Linked DNA regions of Homo sapiens. The protein of the gene in region 4 interacts with the protein of the main gene of each other region in a pairwise test. Each region holds a gene or a part of one and is shown on either strand. Other genes may lie near its edges.

Region 1 (7,236 bases), on a different chromosome or scaffold from region 4:
GTTGAGCTCCACAACAGTGGAATCTTATTTATCTCCGTCTTCCCAGTTCACTGCTGGTACACAGGAGCTTAGGAAATCAGACTTCCCCCATAGTTCAACTTTGAGTGCTCTGTTCTTCATCCAAACAAAGTGCATGTATAGTGTCTTGAAATGTTCTGTCTTTTCCAATTTCCTCCCATTCTGTTCACTCAAATTGCCTTCCCTACCAAACCTCATCCATGGAAATCCTACTTATTTACTGCTTTACTATTTACTTATTTACTACAAGACACTGCTTTATTCCTAAACTTACTCATGAATTTCCCCTGAATATTTGCTTCACCTTTCCCTCTCCTAAATTACATGTCAGTGTTTCTGAGTTTCTTATTCCAGACTTCCACACTATAGGACTTTTTTTTTTTAGTGTACTTGTCATATCCCCTTTTCAAGGAGAGGTTCTGAGTTCTTATCAATTCATTACCTAGTATATAATGAGTGTTCAACCCCTGGTTAAAGAACAAAATGAGACAGAAAACTGGCAATGCACTTTATTAGAATATGCTCGAAGGTCATTTTAAGGATCAAGAAACCAAAAGGAAGAAGATGTATATCTCATCACCTTAGTTTATTAGACTAGGTTGAGAAGCAAGTGAAAACGAAATTGTATTTGATTTATGTAGACTGTGTCTTCAGGCTTGGGAAATTTTCTATTATTGTAACATAGTCTTGAAGAGTCAGTGCAAGTGTTGCTGGCTTTGGACGAGGTGGCTTTGTAATTTTTTTACATGCTTCCAGTTCCTTGATATTGAGGCAACAGTATCTCCCATTTTCACATAGTGCCTCAGGCACTTCATTTACTCTGCAGATTTTCCTGCAATGTCCTTGTACATAGTTATTCCAGCACTTCTTAAGTTGTTCGGTTACTATACACAGAAAGGAGCAATAGAACAATATCAGTGTTTGAGACTGAAGGCACGTTGGTTTTGGGGAAGACAGAGGAGGCTTGTAGGAATTAGGGGTATGGGGTATCCACAAGGCAGACCCTCATATATTCTGAAGAGGATTTTCCGACAAGGTCAACCTCAGTGTTTGTATTTAACTGGATCACTTATATTTAGGTCCTGTGAGGTTTTAGGCCTCCCTTAACATCTGATAGACTCTGCCAAGAACATAAGATCTTATCTGAGAAAATAAAGGAGCTGAACCCTTGATTCTAGGCTATGGAACTATGCTCTACATAGGAACCTCAGCAAATCTGCCTGCATCCTGAATGCTCCCAGAGCACTACCTTCTACTGCACCTCCTCTGATGCCCAGAGAACAATGTATTGTTACTATGTGTTTATGTCTGAATCAAACTGTTCTCCTGAGTTCAAACCCACTATCAGGGTCAAGAATGACTTTCATGTTATCCAGTAAGGTAGTAGTCTATTGGGTCTTAGGAATGTAGAGGGTCAGGAATAGGCCATTACTATTCTTATAATAAGGGACACATGTAAGAAATCTGGTTTTGAAAGAGGAAAGGAAACTCTAATTTTTGAGTTCTCAGTATGTGCCAAGCTTCACATAGGTTATATCATTTAATAAAACCCCTGTTAACCAGGTGTCATTATCTCCATAGATGAGGAAACTGAGGCTCCTAGAGTCTTCACTACTTAAAGTTGACAAACTAGTAGATATTGAAGGCATGTTTCTTAAACCTAACTCCAAAATTTGCTTCTTCCTCTATTCATGCACACACACACACACACACACACACACACACATATATATATTTGAGTAAAAGGAAATATAGCTGAGCATCAGAGTAAAAACCATATCCAAAGACATAAAGGTATCCCTAGATATTGGCATCATTCCTTTCTATAACAACACATCTTTCCCAGAAGAAATTATGACCTCTTTTTAGCTCAGTGAGTACTCCTCTTTAAGGATAGTAACATGGAATAAGGCTCCAGAAAGAGGAAATTTCTGATGATGTTGGATAAACTTTAGCCATCTTTGGGGGCTCTATTTCCCTTTAGTGTGGATTATGAAGTTCCCTTTGGCTCCTGAAAATGCTCCATCCCACTGTTGATTTGAGTGAGCTTCTGGTTTGGTTTACCTGTGGGTTTCTGGAACAGCAGAATTGCAATGATCATGAAGAGCCCCATGGCCAGGCTTTCCAGAAGAGGTGCAGCCAAAGCTTTTGGTCCAGTGAACTGCACACTATGCTACCTTCCTCAGAGACTTAGATTCTTATGCACTGAACCAGAACAGATGGGATGATATGAAGTGTGTCCTTAAGCTTCTGAACTGTGAGCTTTGCATCATGCAGGCAGACACAGGAAATTTCAGGCCACCCACTTTACCCCCACATGGAATAGAGATACAGCATGTTCCATCCCATCGCACCAAATGCCGCTGTGTAGGCTGTAGACTGCTGGGAAGAATCTGTGATTTTCCTGCTTTGACTCTCTGCGCAGCCGGACCAAGATCGAAATGTACTCACCTCCAAGAATGAATGTGGCAGTATAAACCAGGACATAAATCTGAAACTCTAACAATAAGAATTTCTAGTAGGTTTCTTGCACATTTCGAAAGAAGGTATGATGTAGTTGGGTCTGATCTGAGGTCACCTGATTTTTTATAAAAGCACCAAGAACATACACTGGGGAAAGGATACCCTCTTCAATAAATCATGCTGGAGAAACTGGATTTCCATGTGCAGAAGAATATATATTATGTATATATATATGTACACACATATATACATATATATGCACACAATGGAATACTATACATACATAACACACAATGGAATATATATATATATATATACACACACACACACAATGGAATACTATTCACCCATAAAAATAATGAAATTCTGTCCTTTGCAACAACATGGATAGCCTGGAGGACATTATGTTATGTGAAATGTCAGGCACAGAAAGATTACCACATGTTCCTATTTATATATGGGAGCTAAAAAAGTTGAGCACATGGAAGTAGAGAGTAGTGTTGCAGATATTAATATTAGAGGCTGGTAATGATTAGGGAGAGGGGAGGATGGAGAGAGATTGGCTAATGGATGCAAAATTATAGATAGGAGGAATGACTTCTGGTGTTGTAGCACTGTAAGGTGAATATGGTTAACTACAATTTATTGTATACTTTTAAAAGGCTAGAAGAGAGGATTTTGAATGTTCCCAATACAAATGATAAATGTTTGAGGTGACGGATATGCTAATTACCCTGGTTTGATCATTACACATTATATGCATGTATTGAAATATCACTTTGTATCCTATAAATAAGTACAATTATGTGTCAACTAAAAATAAAAGGAAAAATGGCTAAAATGGCCAATGTTATGTCATATATTTTACCACAATTAGAAGAAAAAGATGCATGAGGGTATTTTTTTTCTACCAGTTGTACCTTGTCTTTGAAAATATTAAAATGTTGCCACAAGGAATCGATGTTTACCTAGATCATTCTTTGATCATTGATTGCAGTTTTCAAAAAATTTCAACCCTGTTAACCACTGAGATGCATTAAATAAATAAGCCAGTTGGCTTAGAGATGAGCCCTATGGCCATTATTCAGGTCACGTAGTGGTTTTACACAAGAATATGTTTAAACAGAGAGATGTTGACATATAAGAAATCCTTTTTAGAGGCAAATGTAAATTTAAGAGCAGTTACCTCAGAGGTCTCAAGGGTCACCTCCCTTTACTTTTGCCACCAGCTTTTACATGGTTTAAGTCCTAGTCAAGGGATTGGTTTTATTATTTATAGTCTTCCTGTGAATGCAAACTTTCCTTATAGGTGACTTGGTGGTGGAGCATCAAATAAAGACCCTAAGTCTGAGCAGTCAGGAGAAATACAAAAAGCCTTCCTATTAAAGTTGTATTTCTGAAGCTGGATGTTAAATTAGTAATAATAAATATAAGGATAGGAATGGGTCCTAAGAGCAAGGACAAATTTTTAATAAAACAAATAAAAATAAAATTATAATATTCATATTAGCAGAAGAACATATGATCCATCCAACAGAAACTAAAAAAAATGAGGAATAGATAAGTCACAACTGGAGGGCAGAAAAAAGTCCTAATAGATCAGTAGTTATAATACATTCACATGGCTTAAACTCACTGATTAGATGACAGAGATTCATTATTGGATTAAAAAAAGATTTCAGCAATATTAGACAATAAGACACATATATAGTAGACTGTTATTAATAGAATATAGTAGAATAGATATATTGAACAATGTATCTGGTGAAAATAACCAAAAAAGTTGGGTAAATGTAAAAAGGAAATTACTGCATTGAGAAACCGTCAAAAATGAAAGGAATCTGCACAGGCCAAAAACTAAGATTGCAAACCCTGAAAGATAAGTTGAACATTATTTTGATGGCTATGTGAGATGTATAAAGCTAAGATCTAGTCCTAGGGAAGACATATAATTGATACCCTTATATAAACCTGAGATTCAAAGGCAACAATCTCAGCCTAAGGAAGAATGAAATCTCTCTCTCTGACACGAGTGTATACATACACACACACACAGATTAATCTGTATTAGATTGTATTTTGTCAGCATTAACCTTGGCTCTGGATGGAGAAGGTAAATATTAACCCTATGAACTGTAGCCACAAATTCTCATGGGTTTCAACCTAAGTTCAAGCTATTTATATGGATTAAAAAAATCAAGTAAATAATTTAATTATAAGAAATCTCAGTTGTTAATTCGCTAGTTGTTTAGTGGAAGCAGATGTGAATCTTTTCTTCATATATCCAAGGCACCCAAGAATTCCTAAATATGAAATTCCAATTAAAATGAGAATCTTACAGGTTAAAGTTATAAAAACAGAATGAAGTATGGTCCCATGAGTCTGAATCATTTGAAGGTCCAGACATTAGAAAGAGAACAAAACACAACAATGACAATAACAAATGGCTAACCCTTGTATAACACTTTCTATGTGCTGGCACTCCTGTCGGTGTCTTACATACATAAACTCATTTACCTTTACAGCAACACTTTGAGGTAGATATTATTATCTCCATTCTACAAATGAGAAACTCAAAGGCACAGAAAACATAAGAAACTTGCTCAAAATATTATAGAGCACATATCAAGTGCTTTACAACCACATGACCAGTGGCTAACATATTGTATAGTACAGATTTAGAACATTTCCATCTTTTTAGTTACTTCTATTGGAGAGCACTTCTCTAGAGGCTGAAAGTTCACTACTGTACTATGCGTCTAATACTAGATTATCAGATCCTTCTTAGATTCATTTAACCATCAACAAATCAAAATACAGAATTATTCATTATGAAAAGATCTCCCTCTCTTATTGTCTTACTGGCATATTTCCCTCCCTCTCCTGACTATTCATAACCCCTGGAAAGCACTAATTTGTTCTACATTTCATAATTTTTAGACAATGTTATGTGAATATAGTCACACACTATGTGACCCTTTGTCTTTTTTCATCACTCAGCATAATGCTCTTATAATCTATATAAGCTGTTGCATGTATCAATAATTCATTTTTTTTTTTTTTTTTACTGCTGAGAAGTATTCCATTGTATGGATGTACCACCCTATGTTAGTCATTCACCTGTTGAATGACGTTTTGGTTGTTTACTCTTTTGGGCTATTATAAATAACACTACCATTGATATTCCTGCCCGGGAGTTGTGGAGAAAAACACTTTCATTTCCTTGGCATAAACACCAAGGAGTGTATTCCATTGTTGTTGGATGAAATGTTTTATAAATGTCTATTAGATCCTGTTGCTTTGTGGTATTTTTAAATTCTTCTACACCCTTGTGGATTTTATGTCTAGTTGTCCTATCTATCAACTGTTGAAGTTGATATTGTAATTTTTTTTTTTTTTTTTTTTTTGAGACGGGGTCTCGCTCTGTCACCCAGGCTGGAGTGCACAGCTCACGGCAGCCTCGATGTCCTGGGCTCAAGCCTTCCATGTCAGCCTCCTGAGTAGCTGGGACAACAGGCGTGGGCCACCACACCTTAGTTTTTGTATCTTTTATAGAGAGGGGGGTCTCACTATGTTGCCTCAGGTGATCTCAAACTCCCAAGCTCAAGTGATTTGCCTGCCTCAGCCTCCCAAAGTGCTGGAATTACAGGGATGAGTCACCACGCCTGGCCTGATATTGTAAATTTATTTCTCCTCTTAGTTTTATCAGTTTTTGCTTCAGGTATTTTGAAACTCTGGTTTTCAGTTTGTGGACGATCAGGGCTGCCATGTCTTCTTGGTTGATTGACCCTTTTGGCATTATATAATTTCCCTCTCTGTCCTTGATAATTTGTTTTGCTCTGAAGTCTGCTTTAACTGATGTTAATATAGCCATTCCTACTTTCTTATGATTAATATTTGTATGGGGTATCTTTTTGATACATGTTAGGGATTAAGTTACCATTTTATATTTTGTTTTCTATTTGTTCCTTAGAATTCCACTATAATTTAGCTATAATTTCTTATTGTATTTATTTATTTTTTTTAGTGGTTGCTGTACCTAACTTATCACAGTCTACGGTGTCAAAGTTTTACAAGTTTGAATGAAGTATAAAAACTTACCTCACTTTAAATTTCTTTGCCTTACCCAGCTTATAATGTTTAAGTACTTCCTCTACATCTATTTAGAACCACATCAGACAATGTTACAATTTTTGCTTCAATCTACCAAACATGATTTCAAAACTCTTTAATAAAAAGATAGTCTCACTTTGGGAGGCCGAGGCAGCAGATTGCTTGAGTCTAAGAGTTCGAGACCAGCCTGGGCAACACAGTGAAACCCTGTCTCTACAAAAAAATATAAAAATTAGCCGGCTCCTGTGGTCCCAGCTACTCACTGGGCTCAGGAGGGAAGATCCTTTGATCCCAGGAGGTCGAGGCTGCAGTGAGCTGAGATTGTACCACTGCACTCCTGTCCGGGCGACAGAGCCAGACACTATCTCAAGAAAAGAAAGCATAAAAAAAAAATAAAGCAAAAAAAAAAGCATAGTCTATTATATTCACCTCCCATTTTACCCATTCTATTGACTTCGACTTCTTCCTTTCTGAAGTTCCAAGCCCCCGGTTATCATTTTGGTTTAGAGAACTTTCTTTGACTATATTTTTAGGATAGGGCTGCTAGTGACAAATTCCCTTAATAGTTTCTTGTTTGAGAATGTTTTTCTTTCCCTGTTTATTCCTAGAGAACTTTTTTTTTTTTTTTTTTGCTAGATATAG
Region 2 (7,026 bases), on a different chromosome or scaffold from region 4:
ATGATGAATGTTAGCTATAGAGATTCCAGGGCTAAACAGTTATGTGCAACCTGAATTACTAAACACAGTGGGAATCTCCTCAAGTGGGCCCGGAAACACAGTGGGCACAGGTCTCCTGTGTGCCTCTTCCAGTACCCTGCACTGTAGCTGGGCAGGTGTTAAGCTTCAGGGGGCAACCATCCCTCTCTTCAGAGACAGCAGAGAGAGGGGGCAGAGAGGTGTGATGGTGGGCTGTGGGAGGGCCATGTGGAGCATCAGTGTTGGGAGGTTTGGCCACCCTCTACAGTGACCTTCTGCCCCCATGCTGACCTTCAGAGGAGAGACTCCATCCCTCAGTGGAATTCCAGGAGCCAACCCACTCCCAGGCCAAAGTCTGGAAAATTTTGGTAATATACGTAAGTGAAAGACAATGAATGTCACATACAGAGAGAGCTTTTCTTTTTCTCTTTTTCTTTTTTTAAGACACAGGGTCTCAGTACGTTGCCCAGGCCAGACCGAACTCCTGGGCACAAGCATTCCTGCCGAGTGCCTGGGACTACAGGTGCATGCTAGCTACCACATCTGGCTTGAGAGAGCTTTTCTCAAAACTCATTTTTAAAATCTTGTCTGCTCATCAGTGAAGCAAATCAGTGTTGGCCCACAGGCCACTGAACTATAAATAGTTAGCTAAATCAGAAATCAGATGACAGGAATCTATGAATCTTTAAAAAAATAGCATATACATCTGTATGTATATACATATATATGTATGTATATATCTCACAGGACTGTATTTTTGTATATTTCCATCTACTTCTATTTATGGCTATCAGATGGATCAATTTTTGCCTCTGAAAGATACAGGAGTATTATTTCCTGGCCTGAATACTGTTAAAAATCAGGAATGGCAAAGCTCAGGCTCATGGCATGTATCTCTAATTGATCACAGTACATTTCCCACTGGGCCCAAAAGAGGCTCCAGCATCTGTCTCTGCATAGTGCTGAGGCAGCCAACGAGCAAATGATCAGAGTGGGTGTGTGAATTAAAACCCGCCTGGCCCCCTGATTTCAGTAGTGCCTGTAAGAGAGAGAGGCCTGGGCTGCTGGGGTCTATGAATTTGCTGGCAGCCCTGACAATCCACCTTCTGGGACTGTACGCCTCTGCTTAAGGCTCTTTGGAGAGAGCTGATGGCTGGATCAAGGTAGGTATTGATTCTATGAAGGGAATGCCCCAGAAACCAAGCCCTTCTCTTCCCCCATCAGGAAGAAAATGAGCATTTTAAATAAGAATTCATTCCTAAAGGCTCCCCAAAACATCCTCACCGCTCCGGCTACCAGTCCGCTCTGGTTGTAACTCTTGGAAGCTGCCACAATGGAGGCGATGAGGAGGAGCAGGGTACCGATTAAATAGTGCAGAAGTTCCTGGGGGCAGAAACAAAGCAAATAAGTGGGTAGGGCCGTCCATTTCTGGTCCGGGAAGAGCAACTGGGCATCAGAAGACATGAAAAGAAAGGGAGAGAGTGACGCTTCCTCTTCTCCCTTGCAACACGCAAATGGGATGAGCAGAGCCGCTCGCAGGCAGCCAACATGCGGGCTGACCAGGAAGAGGCCAAGCAAGACAGAAGTGATGCCGGGCAGGCAGGAAGGGAAGAGGACAGAGAGAAAGGAAGCTTCTGGTGTGAGCAGAGATAGCCACTAAGGACTCCTCTACTCCTGAGAGCAATCTGTGGACAGTGCCTTAACCTCTGGCTAAAGCTACTAAAAAGCAAACGAGCTTCTTGCAACTTCCCGGCTGGAGAGTTTAAACAAAGCTCCAGCTCGGAGAAGCAAAGTACCTTAAAGAGATATTTGCCTTTCTCTTCTGCTTCGGAGAAAGTTCTGGGCTAACAATGTGCTGGTCTTGTGTGACTGATGGGAGTGTCAGCCCACTCTGTGAATGGCCCCAAGTGTGGACTTGAGAGGTATTCATTCCCAGGGTCCCGTCAGACTCAGACTCTAGAATGAGGTCAGTGGCACTTCTGTGAAGTGCCTGTGGATGTGTGGTGGCAGCTGGCTTTCTCACTCCTGAGCCTTCCTGCCTTTTTTTTTTTTTTTCCTGTCATTCCCTCTTCTCTTTTCTCCAGAAGAGTGCCCTCCCGGCCAAGCTCTGCCAATGAATCCACTGGCAGGACTGGTTCCACCTTTGCTTCTCGCCTTGGCCCATGGGCCATGCATTTCCACCCCACTCACTCATCATGATTAATCAGCATCCTTGCAGGCCCTGGATGAGATGGGCCTTTCAGTGGCGAGGGAAAGCTTCCATCTCACCCTTTCTCTTCCCCATTAAACATCAGATCCGAGAAGAACTGAGGCTGGGGGCCACTTCCAGTGCTTGCTCTGAATCCAGGGTGCATCCATTTTCAGTTGTCTTCAATGAGAATCTAGAAATCATTCCTTCATGAAGTTCTGCCCCTTAGGGCAGGCAGCTATTAAATTTTGGAAAAGCATTCCAATTTAAAGCTGTAGCTCCTCTCAAAGCTATGTAAAATCAAAGACCCTGGTTTCTCCCTTAGTGACTAGAAAGGAATATCACAAGATAGATCACAGAGATTTTAACTGAAGAACAGATGAGTAACTGCAAGTTCCCCACCTCCAAGATTCTCAACTATTAAGACAGAGGAGGATGACATGGGGCAGAGAAAACCAACTTGAGAGAATCCTAACCGGAAGTACTTAAATAGTATCTCAGCCAAAAATGTGTGGCTGAGTCTGTCCTTCCAACTTTCACTCCTCATGCAGCCCACTCTTGTGCTTGTCCCTGAGCTTTTGTTCTCTCCTTTGCTTGTTCAGTATCTGCATCAGGTAAGCCCCAGAGGAATTTGTTCTCAAAAGAAGCAGAAAAAAATGCCATAACTTTGAAAGGGGCCTTAGAACTTAGAAACACAAAAGAAATTTCTCTCAAAATAACAGTGGGTAATAGTGTTAAGTGTGAACAATTAAACAATCTAATCAAGATGCAGAGGTGGTCAGATTGGATTAAAAAACCAAAGCAAAACGAGAAATAACTACAGTATGTGCTGTCTATGGGAGAGAGACTTTATATTCAAAGATAAGGAAATGGCACGCAAACAACAACCAAAAGAAAGCCAGGGTGTCTACACTGCATCAGACAAAATAGAATCGAACACAAAAAAAAGTTACTAGAAATAAAGAGGGACATTTTATAACAATGAAAAGCTGAATCCGTAAGTAAGATATAACAATTATAAACGTATATGCACCTAATAAAAGAGCCAAAACACATGAAGTGAAAAATGAGAAAAATGAAGGAGAAAAACAGACAATTCAAAAATAATAGTTGGAGAATTCAATATCCCTACTTTCAGCAATGTATAGAACAACCAGGTAGAAGGTCAACAAGGAAATAGAAGATTCAAACAACACCATAAAATGACTAGACCTAAAAATCCTCTATAAAAACTCTATCCAGCAAAAGTATAATATACAAATATACAATGTATAAAAGTACATTCTTCTCAGATGTACACAGAACATTGTCCAGGATAGACGATATATCAGACCATAAAACAAACTTCAATAAAGGTAAGAAGGACTACAAAATATGTTCTCTGAACACAATGGAATCAAATTAGAAATCAAGAGCAGAGGGAAATCAGGGAAATATATAGAGATTAAACAACATATTCCTAAATAATGAATGGATCAAAGAAAAAAAATCATAAGAGAAATCAGAAAATACCTGGAGATGTATGAAAATGAAGACACAATATACCAAAATTATGGAATACAAGTAAAACAGTTATCAGAGGGAGATTTATAGCTGTAAATGCCAATATTAAAGGAGAAGGAAGGTCTCAAATTAGATGATGACCTTCCACATCATCTTAGTCTGTTTTGCGTTGTTTTAATAAAGGAATACCCAAGGCTGGGCAACAAATAAAGAAAAGAGGTTTATTTGCCTCATGGTTCTGTAGGCTGTACAAGAAGCATGGCACCTGTATCTGCTTCTGGTGAGGGCTTCAGGGAGCTTCTACTTTCTGAAGCAAAGGTGAAGGTGAGCAGGCATCACACAGCCAAGAGGAAGGAAGCAAGAGAGAGGGGAGGAAGGTGCCAGCCTCTCTTTAATAATCAGTTCTCATGGGAACTAACAGAGCAAGAACTCACTTATTACCACTAGAACAGCACCAAGTCATTCACAAGGGATCTGCCCCCATGATCCAAACACCTCCCACTAGGCCCCACCTCCAACACTGGGAATCAAATTTTAACATGAGATTTGGAGGGGACAGATATCCAAACTATATTATACATTAAGACACTAGGAAAAGAAGATCAAACTAAACCTAAGGCAAGAAGAGGAAAGAAAAAAAATAAAGATTAAAGCAACATTTATTAAGATAATAGGAAAACAATAAAAAAATCAATGAAACCAAAAGCTGGTTCTTGAAAAGATCAACAAGATTGACAAATCTTCAGCTAGATTGATCAAAGAGAAAGAGAGAGAGAAGATGCAAACGAAAGAGGAAACATTACTACTGCACTTACAGAAATAAAAAGAATGTAAGAAATACAATAAACAATTGCATGCCAATAAATTCAATGACTTAGATGAAATGGACAAATTCCTAGACATATATACTACTAAAATTGACTCCAGAATAAATGATGCAATCTGAAAAGATGGTAAAATTAGAGTTCGAATTAACAATAAAAAAAATTACCCACAAGAAAAGCTGAGACCCAGTGTCACTGCTAAATTCTACCAAATAGTTAAGGAATAATTAATACCAATTCTGCACAAACTCTTTCAAAAGATAAAAAAGGAGGGAATATTTCCTAAATTATTCTGTGAGGCCAGTATTAACTTGATACCAGAACCAGATGGACATCAGAAAAAAAGAGAACTACAGACCAATATCTCTTTTAAATACAGATGCAAAAAATCCTCAACAAAATATTAGCAAACTGAATATACCAGCATATAAAATGGGTTATACATTATGGCCAAATGGAATTTACCCCAGGAATGCAAGGTTGGCCCAACATATACAAACAAACCAGGCCAGGTGTGGGGGCTCATGCCTGTAATCGCCACACTTTCAGAGGCCGAGGAAGGAGGATCACTTGAGCCCAAGAGTTCAAGACCAGCCTGGGCAACATAGGGAGACCTTATCTCTACCAAAAACAAAAAAAAAATTAGCCAGGCATGGTGGTGCACACTTGTGGTCCCAGCTACTCAAGAGGCTGAGGTGGGAGGATCGCTTGAGCCTGAGAAATAAAGGCTGCAGTGAGCCATAATTATACCACTGCACTCCAGCCTGGATGATAGACCAAGATCCTGTCTAAAAAAACAAAACAAAAAAAACAAAAAACAATGTAAGACACCATACTAATAATGGGAGAAAAACTCATCACCTCAGTAGATACGGAAAAAGCATTTGACAAAATCTAATACTCTTTTATGATAAAAACACTCAACAAAGTAATGCTAGAAGGGAACTTCAACTTGATAAAGGGCTTCTACAAAACACTCACACCCAATGTTATATTTAATGATGAAAGAAGGAATGCTTTCCTCCTAACATGAGGAAAAAGATAATGATGGCTGCTCTGCCATTTCTATTCAATATTTGTCTAATTTAGTCAACTAATTTCTTGCAATAAGGCAAGACAATGAAATAAATGGCATCCAGATTATAAAGGAAGAAGTAAAAATATCTCTATTTGCAGATCATGTTTACAGAATATCCTATGGAATCCACTAAAAATATATTAGAAAAATATATTAGAACTACTAAGTAGTTCAGCACAGTTGAGGACACAAATCAATATGCAAAAAGTAATTGGATTCCTATGCACTTGCAATGAACAATCTGGAAATAAAATTAAGAAAAAAATTGATTTAAAATAGCATCAAAAAGAATAAAATGCTCAGACACAAATTTAATTTAAAAAGTTCAGGCCAGGCACAGTGGCTCATGCCTGTAGTCCCAGCATTTTGGGAGGCTGAGGCAAGAGGATTGCTTGAGCCCAGGAGTTTGAGGATGCAGGGAGCTATGATCTTGCCACTGCACTCCAGCCTGGGTAACAGAGCAAGAACCTGTTTCAAACAAAGCAACAAACAAAAAACACTTTTACTCTGAAAACTACAAAACATTGAAAGAAATAACAGATTATCTAAAAAAATGGAAAAACTTCCCATGTTCATGGATAAGACAATATTATTAGGATAGCAATATTCTCCAAATTGATCTATGGATTCAACATAATTCCTATTATAATCCCAGCTGATTTTTGTAGAAATTGAAAACCCGATTCTAAAATTCACATGGAATTGTAACGATCCAAATCAATCCTAAAAAAGAAGAATAATTGGGAGGCTGCATATTTGCTAGTTTTACAACTTACTACAAGGCTACAGTAATCAAAATAGTGTGATAATGGCATAACGACAGACACATAGATCAATGGAATAGAATTGAGAGTCCAGAACTAAATCCATGTATTTAATGGTCAACTGATTTCAACAAGGGTGCCAATGCCATTCAATGGGGGAAAGAATAGTCTTTTCAACATATGATGCTGGGATAATTGGATATCTACATGCAATAGAATGAAATTGAACCCTTACCTCACACCCTATGCAAAAAACATTAACTCAAAATGGATCAAATACCTAAATGTATAAACTAAAACTATAAAACTCTTGGAAGAAAACATAGAAGTAAATTTTCACAATCTGAATTTGGAAATGGCTTCTTATATGTAAGAAAAGCGTGAGCTAAAAAAGAAAAAAAATAAATAAACTAAATTTATCAAAATTAAAAACTTGTGCTTTAAAGGACACCATCAAAAAAGTGAAAAACATCAGAATGGGAGAAAATATTTTCAAGTCATATAGCTGATAAGGGACTTTTATCCAGACTATAGAAGGAATTCTCACAACTCAATAATGAAAAGACAAATAACCTAATTAAAAAATAGGCAAAGGACTCGAATAGACATTTCTTCAAAGAAAATATACAAATGGCCAAAAGCACATGAAAA
Region 3 (6,904 bases), about 43 Mb from region 4:
GGTTTCACCATGTTGGCCAGACTGGTCTTGAACTCCTGACCTCGAGATCTGCCCACCTTGGCCTCCCAAAGTGCTGGGATTACAGGCATAAGCCACCATGCCTGGCCAACTTTTACATCTTTATTAACTAATGCACTTAGAATACAGCCGGGCAGCAGTGGGTGAACAAAAATACTTGCAGAATGAGTGGGTATCATTTGCCTTTTTTCCATTATGCATCCTCAAACTCCAAAGCTTGGCTGCACATCTGAACCAACTGCACATATCACCACAAACAACATATAGCAAAGGTGGCAGGGGGTGGAGAGGACTGGAAAAAAAACTGGCTTACATATTTGACAGAGAAAATTCTCAACATTTGTGGCATGCTGGGGCTACAGAGTGGGAGGTCTTTGTCTCTGTTCATACTTATGACACGAACTCAATCGTGTCCCACTCCCAGCCCCCAGTAGCAAACCCTGGCAGTATCACAAGCTCCATGACCAGCTGTACCCTTGAATTTAACACAAACACCAGGAAAGGTTAAGGAATTTTCTTTATTTTTTACAAATTAAGACTATGCAGATTTCATATATTTCTGAATCAAAAACACCTTTGTCTTCACAGTATGAGTTAGAATGCAGCCTGAGCTGAAAATCAAGAAACTAGAAAAGAAAGTGGTAGAGATAACTATATTAAAAATCTGTTAGGTATTTTCTTTAAAAGTAGGTGTTTTTTTTTTTTTCTTTCTTTTTTTTTTTTAATATCTTGTCATTCTTGGCACTGTTTCTAAAGAAAAACTCCATTATCCCAAGCAAAAAGCACAGAAGGTGGAGTTTGGCTTCAAGAGATGTTAACTCAAAATCTTAGGCCTAGCAGAGAATCACCAAATTTATGGAGAGTTAACAGGGGTTTAACAGGAAGGAAGTGCCTTTAGTAAGTTCTCAAGCCAGAGGCTGGAGGCAGCAGCTAAATCAGAGGACAGCATCCTCAGTGAAAGTGAGCCATTCGGGGTGGCATGTCACTCCAGGAATAAACACAACTTAGAAACAAATGATTTCGTAGGATAGCACAGTGACATGGTGCACTGTGAACCTGAGGCCACTGTGTCAAACTGTGCACTGGTTGTGAATAGGGAGAGCCAAAAATTATGTCCTACTGGTAATGAGCTTTCAATGGCTCGATCCTCTCACACTGAAGCTCTGTAGAGCAGCTCAGAGCCACAACCACTCCCAACATTGACCCTTCTGGGGGTAGCTGTCTGTGGCAGCCCACAGGAAGGAGCTGGAGATCCCCATTAGGACTGTCCACCCACACTTGAAGCCACAAAACTGCAGGGATTGGGGCTCTCACTGGTTTGGTCGCCTAACTCCCGCCTAAAAGGCCACAAATTTCTGGAAAACAGGTAACAGACCAAAAACTAAAGTGCATCAGTAAAATGAACATTTATCTACTGCCCCGAATCTCTGGCTTGACACTACCTACTGGTGTCCAGTTGGAGACAGACTAAAATGCACTGAAGGACTATTAGGATTGCTGCCTCCTAAGTTATCACAGCCTCGCTCTGTTGATGTGAATGAGGAACTGCTTGGTTGTTAAAGGAGATTTTGCTCCCTGCTGCCCCAAACAGGTCCTTATCTAGGTTTGCTCCCCACTGCCCCAAACAGGTCTGGCAGGATTGGTTACAATGATCTCCAGAGGCTCAACCATTCCCCTTCCCTATCCTTGCTTGGGACATTTAATCACAGCCACCTAGTAGAGGCCGCTCAGTAAGGGGATAACAAACTAAAAAAACAAAAACAGGGCAAGTTTAGGGGAACCCTACGATGCTGTACCTTGATACACATAATCAGCCTTTTCAAAAATGCCTGACAAGAATTAGTCTTTCCTTTGTGCTGAAGTCTTCCCACCCATGGATGGAAGCAGGCTGACTCCCTGAGGGTCAGGCAAGGGGTGGGAAAGGGAACACATTACTTTTGTGAAGGCAAAGCAGAAAGGTGTGTTTGCCAGACCAGCATGGGCAGCTCAGAGGGAGCAAAGCATCCACCAGAAGAGGCTCTCCATTTTCTTTGTAGGGCCTGACAGTTGAGATTTGAGGCTGAGTTAACAATGGGACCACTGAACTTCTTTCCAATGGAAAACTCACGGCCCAGTCCCACAGGAACTGTGCGCATACCAAACAACAATGAGGAAGGAAGGGCCGGGTGGCTCTACCAAACAGTTCAGGTCCACTGGGTGAATGAAGCCTGGTGGGAAAGCGGACTCCTGAAGTTGGCGCCCTCTGCTGGTCCCACTTCTCATCGTGGCGGGTCGACTGCCTGAGTAGAGGAAGAGGCTACAGATGGGGTTGACAAAAAAGGGAGTGAGGGGAACCCCAGGAAGATGAAGCCAAACTCCAAACTATATTCTGCTAATCAGTTTTTTGATCAAAAAATTCAAAATAGAGGAAACCACAAAGTACAAAAGCTTTTCTGATGCTTTTCATTATCACAGAACACACCACCTGTAATGTGTGCAAAAAGGAAATGAGGGGTGGAAGGAGAGGAAGTCTAATTGGGAAAGGCTGGATGGTCACTTCATTTCTTCTCTTTCTTCTTATCCTAGAAATGGAGAAAAATCACCCAATTAATTTTTTGACATTTGACATTCAAGCTAAAACTCTTGAGTGAGCATTTAGTTAGGGACTAGAAGTGAGCCAGACAATTAAAAAGAAATGAGAAATGCTTCCTTAGCTCAGCAAGAACTGAATCTTAACCACATCCTACTGGTGGTTCCCAAAGTTGCCGACAGACCGACCAAGAATAAAGGTTAAGCAGCTGTCCCCACCCCCACCCCAGGAGTGCCGAGGTGGGCTGCCTGACCACTCTAGGCTATTCACAGCCACTACAGCTCAGATCCCAACAGTGAAGGCTGCAGATGGCACTCTATCCTCAAAGAGTGAAACTAGAGGCCAAGACCACCAACCAACCATTAGGCGCGAGAAGTGCTCCACCCTGCAAAGTGAGCATGACTCTGGCATAAACTGACATTCAGAAATAATTTGGTCCAGCAGAATTCTTCATTCAATCTTGGATGGAAGCCCAATGTATTAAGGAATGAAAATTCAGTTGCTTGTTCTGAAACTTGTACATCTGCCTAGTGCTCAGTCCAACCATGGCATAGCCCAGACAGAGCCAGCAATCCTATCTGGTCAACTACTCCCGCTACCACTATGCTATCTCTAAGCTCCATAAGGTCTATAAAGAAAAGCTCATTTCATTTGTTTCCCCCACTGCTTGACTCAACTACGTTAGATACTCATTAGCCCTATATAGAATGCTTCCTTGGAAAAAAAAATTAACAAATGGATAAAATTAGTCTACTTCTGAAATTTACAACGTCCTCCACAATACCTTTCTCTGAGTCACAACTATATAGCCTTTAAATTATTCATGTAGCAGGTTGTGTTTACTGCCACTGAAGCTTTTTTCCCTTTCATACTAAACGCAGGAATTAGTTAAAAAAATTTTTTTTTCACTTGCTGCTTTTTTTCTAACAACTGAAGACTTCTGGCTTACCTCTTACTCAGTGGCCTGCCTTACAGTTACCCTGGACCTAACACAGTGTGTGAGCAAGTTTTCAAATCTGAAGTATACACACATGCCAAGCTCAGGAGCCATTATTGTCTCATCTTTGGGTTGTAGGCTAACTAACCTTTTCATTCATGGCCAGGATCATCATGAGTTTTCTGAAGACAGTAATGAAATCTAAGAAGAGATCAATGCAGTGCCTGAAAGGCAAGAACCAGATTAGGATCTGTACTTCAGACTTTTTTATCCACAAGCCCACAAAGATGCAGAATATAAACCCCACCCCTACCCCCACGAGCCAGCTTCTCCCACACTTTACCCCCAACTAAGGAAGTAAAACTCTGGTGTCTGAGATCCTTTAGACTCATCGAAGTCATGCAGCATAGAGAAAAGAGACTGGGCCAGGCACAGTGGCTCATGCCTGTAATCCCAACATTTTGGGAGGCTGAGGCAGGTGGACTGCTTGAGCCCAGGAGTTCGAGACCAACCTGGGTAACATAGCAAAATCCCGTCTCTACAAAAATTAGCAGGGCATTGTGGCATGTGCCTGTAATCCCAGCTACTGAGGAGGCTGAGATGGGAGGAACACCTGAGCCCAGGGAGCTTGAGTCTACAGTAAGCCATGACAGTGCCACTCTCCTACTGCAGCTTGGGTGACAGAGCAAGCCCTGTCTCAAGCGCTCTGAACTCTGCAGAGGTCCAAGTCTGAACCCTTAACTACCACTAATTAGTCATGAGACTGAGAGAATCACTACATTAAAAAAAAAGTGCCGAGCACAGTGGCTCACACCTGTAATCCCAGCACTTTGGAAGGCTGAGGCGGGCATCACCTGAGTCAGGAGTTTGAGACCAGCCTGACCAACATGGAGAAACCCCATCTCTACTAAAAATACAAAATTAGCCGGGCATGGTGGTGCATGCCTGTAATCCCAGCTACTCAGGATGTTAAGGCAGGAGAAACACCTGAAGCCGGGAGACGGAGGCTGCGGTGAGCCAAGATCACACCGTTGCACTCCAGCCTGGGCAACAAGAGCGAAACTCCGTCTCAAAAAAAAAAAAGTGAGCTGGGCATGGTGGCCCATGTCTGTAATCCCACCACTTTGGGAGGCTGAGGAAGGCAGATTGCTTGAGGCCAAGAGTTCGACACCATGTCCTCACGGGGCAACGTGGCAAAACCTCGTTCTACTAAAATTACAGAAATTAGCTGGACGTGGTGGAGAGTGCCTGTAATCCCAGCTACTAGGGAGGCTGAGGCACAAGAATCGCTTGAACCCAGGAGGCGGAGGTTGCAGTGAGCTGAGATGTTGCCACCGCACTCCAGCCTGGGTGACAAAGCAAAACTGTCTCAAAAAAAAAAAAAAAAAAAAAAAGTGGCTGGGCATGGTGGCTTAAGCCTGTAATCCCAACACTTTGGGAAACCAAGGCAAGAGGACTGCTTGAGACCAATCTGGGCATATGGTAAGACCCCATCTCTACAAAAAATAAATTAGCCTGGCATGGTCGCACGTGCCTGTTGTCCCAGCTACTCAAGAGGCTGAGGCAGGAGTACTGCTTGAGCACAGTAAATTCAGGCTGCAGCGAGCTGTGTTCATGGCACCACACTACTGCCTAGGCAACAGAGCGAGACCCTGTCTCTAAAAAAAGAGTGTATCTTCTACTCATTGTTTAAAAAATACAGAAGTATAAATAGGAAAAGGAGAAAGATCTCTTTCCCTCACTTCTGCTTGGAGGTAGCCACTATGGATATGTAAATATATAGCCACCCCCCAACACTTTTTTTTTTTTTTTTTTTGAGAAGGAGTCTCGCTCTGTCGTCCAGGCTGGAGTGCAGTGGTGCAATCTCCGCTCACTGCAAGCTCCGCCTCCCCGGTTCACACCATTCTCCTGCCTCCGCCTCCTGAGTAGCTGGGACTACAGGTGCCCGCCACCACGCCCGACTAATTTTTTGTATTTTTAGTAGAGACAGGGTTTCACCGTGTTAGCCAGGATGGTTTCGATCTCCTGACCTCGTGATCCGCCTGCCCCGACCTCCCAAAGTGCTGGGATTACAGGCGTGAGCCACCGTGCCCGGCCCCCACACTTTTTTTTTTTTTTTTTTGAGACAGGGTCTCGCTCTGTTGCCAGGCTGGAGTGCAGTGGTGCAATCTTGGCTCACTTCAACCTCCACCTCCTAGGTTCAAATGATTCTTATACCTTAGCCTCCTGAGTAGCTGGGATTATATACATGTGCCACCATGCCCAGCTAATTTTTTTATATTTTTAGTAGAGATGGGATTTCGCCATGTTGCCCAGGCTGGTCTCAAACTTCTGAGCTCAAGCGATCCAGTGGCCTCAGCCTCCCAAAGTGCTAGGATTATAGGTGTGAGCCACCACACCTGGCCTATTAGCCCAGATTTTTAAAAAATCTGAAATCTTTCAGGAATTGAGGAAGATTATGGTACACAGTTCCAAAACCGTGGGTTTCCTACCACATACACTCCCAAAGCTTGGCCACCTATGTTCAGCCAATGCCAACCTAAGTTCAGCTGCTGAACGGTATGCCTCAACCTTCATGCTTGTTAAAGACTAGTTCCCACACTCACCAGATATAATCTTGATCTCCATGTTCGGCCTTTTCAATAATGAGTTGAGTATCAAAAAGGACGAAGCCACACATGACCACCAGTCCCACATACAGGTTTGCCTAACAAATGTAAGAGATGAAGTTACTATACAGCAGAAGTTGCAGAGAAAAAAAAACCAGCCATACTTTCTGGCTCATAGTCACTTGAAAGTACATCAAATGTGAACCCTATGAACATTACCATTCACGAGAACTGCAGCCTAGGGTGAAGACCACTTTACTTCCCTAGGCACAATACTGCACTGGTCACTGGAAGAGTTTCAATCATTTTAACAATCAGCCACTGCCAGACTGGCCTTACACAAATGGTGTCTGAGCAAACCATTTTCTCTTAGCAATGCCCAACCTTGTGCAGCCTGTTTTCACTTGTGGCAGAAGGCTCCATCCTATGAAGGATAATGGGAAGGCTTAGAGAGCACTGCCCAAAGTAGTACAGAAAGAAGTGCAAAAAAAAAAAAAAAAGGAAAGAAAGAAGTGTGAGGCAAATGGCTGCTGGAAAGTTCCAGGCTAAGTCTTACCTGGAAAAGCCAAATGGATCCAAAGAAAACATTCCCCAGGGAAGACAAAAGCAACAAGCTCAGGGCTGACATCAAGATACCTATAAGACACAGCAAAAAGCTGTCTTGAGAGAAGCCAAGGCAAAGTAAAGCAATCCCATTAAAGCCATTCCTTAACTTCCCCCAGAATGAAGGTTAATCTCAACTCAATAGTCGCAAAGGAGTTAGGGGTAAGG
Region 4 (7,148 bases):
GAAGGGAGAGAGCGTGGCTGAGACACAGGCCTACTGTGGGCCTATGTGAGGGAGGGACAGGTTCACACCAGAAACCTCCAGGTTTCCCTGTGAAAGCAGGTGGGCCTTGGGAAGACTCGCCTCATTTCCCATCTTCCAAAGGAGGATGGCCCTCAGGATGGGAAGGCTCTGGATGGGTCTAGGAAGGAAGGAGTCATGGCCCCAGGGAATGTGGTCTCCAGGCTCCCTCTGCTGGGCCAAACTTACCACATCCTGGACTCCATGTCTGAGGTCTTCCTCAGCTGTGACCCAGATTTTCAGCCTTTACTGGGAGAAAAAGGGGGCCGTCACACCCCAGCCCTGCCCTGTGTACTTCCCCAGCTAATTCATCCACCAATTCTACCCGCATCTGCCCTCCCAGGCCACCCAGCTGCCAGCTATGCGGCTGCACCCAGGATTCACTGGTTGTTAGCATCCTTTTGGGGGAAAAACTCCAGCGTGGTTGCCTGACCAGACTCCAGCCCCATCTACAACTTCTCAGGTCCCTGTTACCTCTCCACCCCAGGGTCTACTCTGGCTTCTCTGATTTCCCTTCTTCTCACTTCCTCTGCCCACAGCTCCAGGCTTTTCTTGGATCTTAATTTAGAGCCAAGAACCTTGTGATTCCTTGAGCACCTACCGCTAGGGAGGGAGTCTGAGGGTAGGGGGAGGGATGGGGAAGTCAATCTGAGCAAGCCAGTGAGTGTGTGTACGTGCAGGGGGGCCCTTCCAGCCCTCCCAGCCCTCCCACCCCTCTGGCAGTGCCAGGCATTTGTCTTATGATTAGCCCCAGGAGTCTGCATCTTCAGGAGAAAGGAATGAAGAGCTGGAGGGATGGAAGGAAAGAGACAGAAAGAGAGAGGTGAGTGGGAGAAAAACTACAGAATATAATTTTTGCTCTTAATGTTTAATCATCCAAGTGCATAGGTGCCCTCTGAAGGGAGGTGGAGTCAGGAAGAAACCACCCCCTCAAATGTGGCTCTCCTGGGTAAAGAATCCTGGGAAAATCGGGATGGTTGGTTTTGAAAGAGAAAGGGTGTGTTCTCAGAGCTGAGGGTGGTGGATCCAGGAGGGGCAGGCTCCCCAGAGGGAGTGAAGATAGGATACCCGTTTCCTGTGGATTCTGGGTCTAAATCTGCCCAATGGGCCAGACGCAGTGGCTCACGCCTGTAATCCTAGCACTTTGGGAAGCCAAGGCGGGTGGATCACCTGAGATCAGGAGTTCGAGACTAGCTTGGCCAACATAGTGAAACCCCGTGTCTACTAAAAATACAAAAATTAGCCGGGGGTAGTGGTGGGCGCCTGCAATCCCAGCTATTCAGAGGGCTGAGGCAGAAGAATCCCTTGAACCTGGGAGGCGGAGGTTGCAGTGAGCTGAGATCACACCATTGCACTCCAGTCTGGGCAACAAGAGCGAGACTCCGACTCAAAAAATAAAATAAATAAATCTGCCCATTGAATCTTCCCAGAGAACAACAAGGGAACAAGATGGGAAAGTCACGGGAAGGGCGTGGGGAAGCAGGCAGTGGGAGAGATGGGAAGGGGTGAAGGGCTGGGAGATGGAAGGCTGGTTAAGAGTGAGAGAGGAGAAATGTGAAGAGGAAGCTGGCCTGGAGTGCAGGGTGAGAGAGAGCAGGCAGTCCTGAAAAAGAGAGAACTGGGAAGAGAGGAGGAGAGTGGGTACAGAAGACTCGAACTGTGGAGGATGCCGAAGGGAGGAAAGGATGAGAGAAAAGGTCAGGGAGGGGAAACGGAGAGGATGAAGGGGTCACAGGTGCAGGGGAAGAAGGGGCAGGAGGAGAAGGAGAGAGCGGTCCAGGCAGGACAGCCAGAGGAGTGGAGAGTAAGGGGATGGGAGAAAAGGGGGGAAAGCCCAGGATGGGGAGAAAGGAAGTGGGGAAGGAGAGAACATAAATGCTTAAGGAAAAATGACACGAGGAACGGGCTGGGAAGCAGAGGCGGGAGCAGCAAAGATGGAGGAGTTCGGAATTGCTCCCCCAAATGTAAAGGGATGTGGAGATACCGAAAGACATAGGGATGGGGGCATGGTGGGAAGAAGGGAGAGAGAGGGGAAAGGAAGAAAGCTAGAGGGAGGGAGCGAGGCGTGTAGAGCGAACCAGTGAAGCGGAGAAGGGCTCCCAGGGCGCATCTGTGGCCAGCTGACTCTAGGACTATCGCCCCTCCGCCTGTGCATCCCCACCCCCAGCCAGCGCCAACCCAGTCCCTGGGCCCCGCACAGCTTCAGCCGCCCCCTCCAGGAAGCCCGCAGTCCCCGGGCTGGCGCGCCACCCCCACCCCTCTCCCAGCTTCTCACCGACCTGTTGTGCGCAGGAGACGAGCTGGGGGTGGGGCAGGAGCCTCGGGGTGCGGGAGCCGGGCCCCAGCCCCAGCGTGGCCCCCATCCCACCCATCCCGCAGGCCCGCACTCCCCGCACAGGGCTGGAGAGCGGCGAGAGTGGGGGGAGACGAGGAAAAGGAGGTCGGCGAAGGGACCCCGAGGCAGGGAGTGCCGAGAGCGGACTGGGGACCCGAAGCAGGAGACTGCGCGGAGCCGCCCGCCGAGCCGAGGCGGGATGGAGGCAGCCGCGGGGACGGGGACGGCTGCGCCAGGGAGGGCGGGAGCGAGCCAGGACCGCGGAGGGATGGAGAGCCCTTCGGGGAAGGGGCGCTGGGAGGCTGGAGGCCTTGTCCCGGGCGAGGGACCGCGTCGGGAGGGGCAGGAGGCGCAGGGCGCGGAGCCGGGAAGGGCAGGGCCGGGCTCCCCGCGGGTGGGGGCGTGGGGGTCCCTCTCACTCACCTGCATGCTTGGCGCGGCGGCGCGACGACTGCGGGCGCTCGGGACTGAGCGGGGCTGGGGGGTCGCAGGAGCGGGCGGGGTGCGGGGCATGGTGGGGAGGTTTGGCCCGCGGCAGGGCGCTGGAGCGGGTGGGGGGCGGGCGCCTGGGGCGCGGGGCGGCGGCGGTGGGAGATGCTCGCCTCGGCTCGGCTCGGCTCGGCTCGGCTGGGCTCGGCGCGGCGGCTGGGACCGCTCCGTCTCCGTCTCCGCCTCCCCCCCGCGCCGGAGGCCACGCACGGTTTAACCCTCCTGCTGCCGCGCTGCAGGAGTCAAGCCAGGCTATGTCCCAGGTGGAGGGCTGAAGAGGCTGGCAGGGTCCAGCGACCGTCCGCTTCCCTGGGTTCTGATGGCAGTCTCCCCACCTCCTTCACCCCAACTCCAGGGACACCCATGGTCGCCTCAGTCAGTTTCTGAGATTCTGAGTCACTCAATGCTCTGCATTCCCAACTTTGTTCTTTTGTATTGTGTTTTGTAGAGATGAGGTCTCGCTGTGTTGCCCAGCCCGGTCTCGAACGCCTGGGCTCAAGCGATCCTTCCCGCTCAGCTTCCCGGAGTGCTGGGATTACAGGCGTGAGTCACCACTGCCTGTCCCCCAACTTGGTTTTGCCCGCTGTAGAAAGTGCCTGAGGTCAAGGCTGGGGGCAAGGGGTGGAGGAAAGGACTGGGGAGGAAGGACCTTGCACCATCTTTGGATTATCCCCACAGCTTGATCCCCTATTTCACTCTGGCCCTGCTACCATGCATTAAGTGGATCACGTCGAAATTCCTGGGCTTTTCCAGCACTGGAATACCTAGACTCCGTGCTGTGACTTACAAGACCCTATATAACCTGGCTCTTAGGTGGCTCTCTGATTGCCTTTCCTAAAGATTTCTATGCTTCAGCCACATGGGACCTGGTGGATTTCCTGGTTGGAGACAGGTTTAACCTGCCTCAGGGCCTTTGCACTTGCTGTTCCCTCAGTAATACATTTCCCTGGCTTTTCACAATGACTTACTGTTTTCATTCCAGTCTCACTTAGATCCAACGCCTTCTGGGAGGCCTTCCCTAATGTCTCTATCAAAAGTAGCCTCTCCTGCCCCTTCTCCCACCACCTGGATCCCATCCCTCTCTACCACACTACGCTGTTTTTCCTCAGGGCACTTCCAGGACACCACACTCTCCTCATTTCCCTCCAACCTCACTGACTGTTCTTAGTCTTCCTCGGGTGACCTCTAAATGTTGGAGCCTCCTAGGGCTTAGTCCTTGGCCATTCTCTCTTTCCACATTCTCTGTCCAGTGATCTCATCCGGTCCCAGGGCTTAAATACTATGTAAATGTCAGTGAGTCCTAAATTTATATCCAGAGCGCCAGACTCATTTATCCGACAGCCTACTTGACATCTCCACTTGGATGTCTAATAGCCATGCAAAGCTAACTTGACTAAAATAGATGTCTTGAATTCCCCCACCCCCAATCCATTTTTCTCCCAGTGATCCCCATCCTGAGGCTTCACAACTACTAGTTGTTCAGGCTAAAAATCTAGGAAACATCCCTCCCTTCCCCTTTTTTTCACTGATTCTCTCCCTGTATCTAATTCACCAACAAGTCCTGTGGGCTCTGCGTCCAAAATATATCCCGAATTCATCTCCTTCTATCTTTATTGCTATAGTCTTGGTCTAAGCCATCATGTCTCATCCAGATTATCATAATAGCTTCCTCACTGGTCCCTGCTTCTGCCCTTGTCTTTACAAACTAGTTTTTCCTATATTGATAATATTTTAAAAATCAAAAGCATGTCATGCTCTTCTCTGCTTAAAATATTCGAGTGGTTTTTCATTACACTTGGAATAAATCTGAACTCCTTGTAAGGAGAAGCCCACCAGCCTGTACCCACCTCATACACAGTGCTCCTGCTGGATCAGACTACTTGCTGTTCTGTAACATCAGAAGTCATTCTCTTAGCATCCCTGCACTTTTTTTTTTTCTCGAGACAGTGTGTCTCTCTGTTGCCCAGGCTGGAGTGCAATGGCACGATCTCAGTTTACTGCAACCTCCGCCTCCCAGGGTCAAGCAATTCTCCTGCCTCAGCTTCCCAAGTAGCTAGCGTGTGCATGCAGGGGGGCCCTTCCAGCCTTCCCAGCCCTCCCACCCCTCTGGCAGTGCCCACTAGTGCCCTGCTAATTTTTGTATTTTTTGTAGAGACAGGGTTTCACCATGTTGGCCAGGCTAGTCTTGAACTCCTGACCTCAAATGATCCACCAGCCTTGGCCTCACGAAGTTCTGAGATTACAGGCGTGAGCCACTGCGCCCGGCCCCTCCACTTTTGATTCCCTCTTCCTGGAATGTTTTGCCACCCCTCTCCCCATCTTCACCTGGTTGGCTCCTTCATCCCTGCTCAAAATCTAAAGTGGCCCCCACTCTGTTTCCTCATTATGTTTCATTGTCTTTCCAACTCATCACTTTCTATTTGTTTATTTATTTATTGAGATGGAGTTTTGCTCTCGCAGCCCAGGCTGGAGTGCGATGGTGCAATCTTGGCTCACCGCAACCTCTGCCTCCTGGGTTCAAGCGATTCTCCTGCCTCAGCCTCCCAAATAGCTGGGATTACAGGTGCACACCACCATGCCTGGCTAATTTTTGTAATTTTAGTGGAGACGGGGTTTCACCATGTTGGCCAGGCTGGTCTCGAACTCCTGACCTCAGGTGATCCTCCCACCTCGGCCTCCCAAAGTGCTGGGATTACAGGCGTGAGCCGCCACGCCTGGCCCGACTCATCACTTTCTGAAATGATCATATATGTGTTTACTATTTACTGTCTGCTCTCTCCTGCCCCCCTATACATTAGAGAGCCAAGATCTTATTTGTCTTGTTTACCGTGTATCCCTACTCCTACTGCAGTGCCTTGGAATGTAGTAGATGCTCAACATGTACCACTTAATGAACTTCTTCTGGGACCCCTGCCCACTCTGAACTCTTTTAATTCTCTCCTCTGCTGTCCTCCAGCCATTCCTCTCTAGCTGCCTGCCCCCTACTGATCTCTGCCCTACGCCAAATGCTTCAGGTTGAGCCCTTGCTCATGTCCACACCCCTTCAGATCCTCCTCCTTCATTTGCTGCATTGTGACCCGTTGTCAGCCTGGCGCTCCTGCCTCGTGAAAGGAAGGAAGCCTGCTGTTCTGACGAGCATCTGCAGCAGCTGCCCTCTTGCTTGCGTGTCCCTGACAGCCCTTCATTTGAGGTCAGAACAGCAGCGAGTGAGCCGTCCTCCTAGTGTCTCCCAGTGGTGGGGGAAAGACAAGGCACACTGGATGTGAACCCGGCCAAGGGGCCATGTGAGTCAGGTGCGCAACTCCTGCCACCTCCTGGGCCCCTTAAGCCCCAGAGCATCCTGAGGATATGCTCCAGGTGAACTCATGTCACTGGCATGGACCAAGTTTATCAAGTGAATATTCATGTTCAGTGTAAGTGCCTTTGACACTGAGGACCTTGGGTCATTAATTATTTCTATTATTCTTGATTCATTCATTCTTTCCACATTTTTTTTTTTTTTGAAACAGGGTCTCACTCTGTTGCCCAGGCTGGAGTGTAGTGGCACAATCATGGCTCACTGCAGCCTTGACCTCCTGGCTCAAGCAATCCTCCCACCTCAGCCCCCAAGTATCTGGGACTACATGTGTGTGCCACCATGCCAGGCTAATTTGTGGTGGTGGTTGTTTTTTTTTGTTTTTTGTTTTTGTTTTTTTTTTTTGGCAGAGATGAGATTTTGCCACGTTGTCCAGGCTGGTCATACAAATATGGTCATTTAAATGGTGTGACACGCCAGGTACCGTGCCATGGCTGGGGATACAGCGGAGAGCAAGAATGAAGTCATCACTGTCTTGGTGGAGCTTACAGTCTGGTAGGGAGACAGTGCAGTGATAAATGTGACTTCAGATGAATTTGAGGACCTACCCACACTCTACAGTCTCTATACAGTCTCTATACATCCTTGTCCTGTTTCTGGCTCTGCTGGTATCTTCATCACTATCTCTGGGCTCATTTTTAATTAATTTATTTATTTTCAGAGACGGGGTTTCGCCGTGTTGGCCAGGCTGGTCTCGAACTCTTGAGCTCAAGCAATCCTCCCACCTTGGCTTCCCAAAGTGTTGGAATTACAGGCGTGAGCCACCGTGACTGGGCTCATTTAGGGTGAATTTCTGTTTTCTGTCCTCAAATATCCAATATTCTTCTTCTGAACCCTTCTCTCTCTCAGCTGATGATCTTGCTTGCTGCTTTTCTGAGAAAATGGAAACAAGCAGGAGAAAACTTCCCCACT

The links.
Region 1: the proteins of PIANP (region 4) and DEFB127 interact in binary tests that used the Homo sapiens proteins (3 or more experiments, as listed by UniProt).
Region 2: the proteins of PIANP (region 4) and CMTM7 interact in binary tests that used the Homo sapiens proteins (3 or more experiments, as listed by UniProt).
Region 3: the proteins of PIANP (region 4) and TMBIM6 interact in binary tests that used the Homo sapiens proteins (3 or more experiments, as listed by UniProt).

What each region holds. Positions count from the first base shown.
Region 1 is NC_000020.11:152,440-159,675, reverse strand, and holds DEFB127 (beta-defensin 127 preproprotein), read right to left. Parts: upstream 2,223-7,236; 5' UTR 2,132-2,222; coding exon 2,083-2,131; intron 903-2,082; coding exon 652-902; 3' UTR 513-651; downstream 1-512. UniProt on the Homo sapiens protein: Has antibacterial activity.
Region 2 is NC_000003.12:32,443,829-32,450,854, reverse strand, and holds part of CMTM7 (CKLF-like MARVEL transmembrane domain-containing protein 7), read right to left. Parts: intron 1,402-7,026; coding exon 1,303-1,401; intron 1-1,302.
Region 3 is NC_000012.12:49,758,548-49,765,451, reverse strand, and holds the end of TMBIM6 (bax inhibitor 1), read right to left. Parts: intron 6,770-6,904; coding exon 6,690-6,769; intron 6,232-6,689; coding exon 6,131-6,231; intron 3,749-6,130; coding exon 3,673-3,748; intron 2,580-3,672; coding exon 2,556-2,579; 3' UTR 518-2,555; downstream 1-517. UniProt on the Homo sapiens protein: Endoplasmic reticulum (ER)-resident protein that confers cellular protection as an anti-apoptotic protein by limiting multiple stress-inducing pathways surrounding the endoplasmic reticulum and mitochondria.
Region 4 is NC_000012.12:6,697,799-6,704,946, forward strand, and holds the start of PIANP (PILR alpha-associated neural protein isoform b precursor), read right to left. Parts: upstream 3,018-7,148; 5' UTR 2,816-3,017; intron 2,618-2,815; exon of another isoform or gene 2,337-2,617; intron 307-2,336; 5' UTR 264-306; coding exon 247-263; intron 1-246. UniProt on the Homo sapiens protein: Acts as a ligand for PILRA in neural tissues, where it may be involved in immune regulation.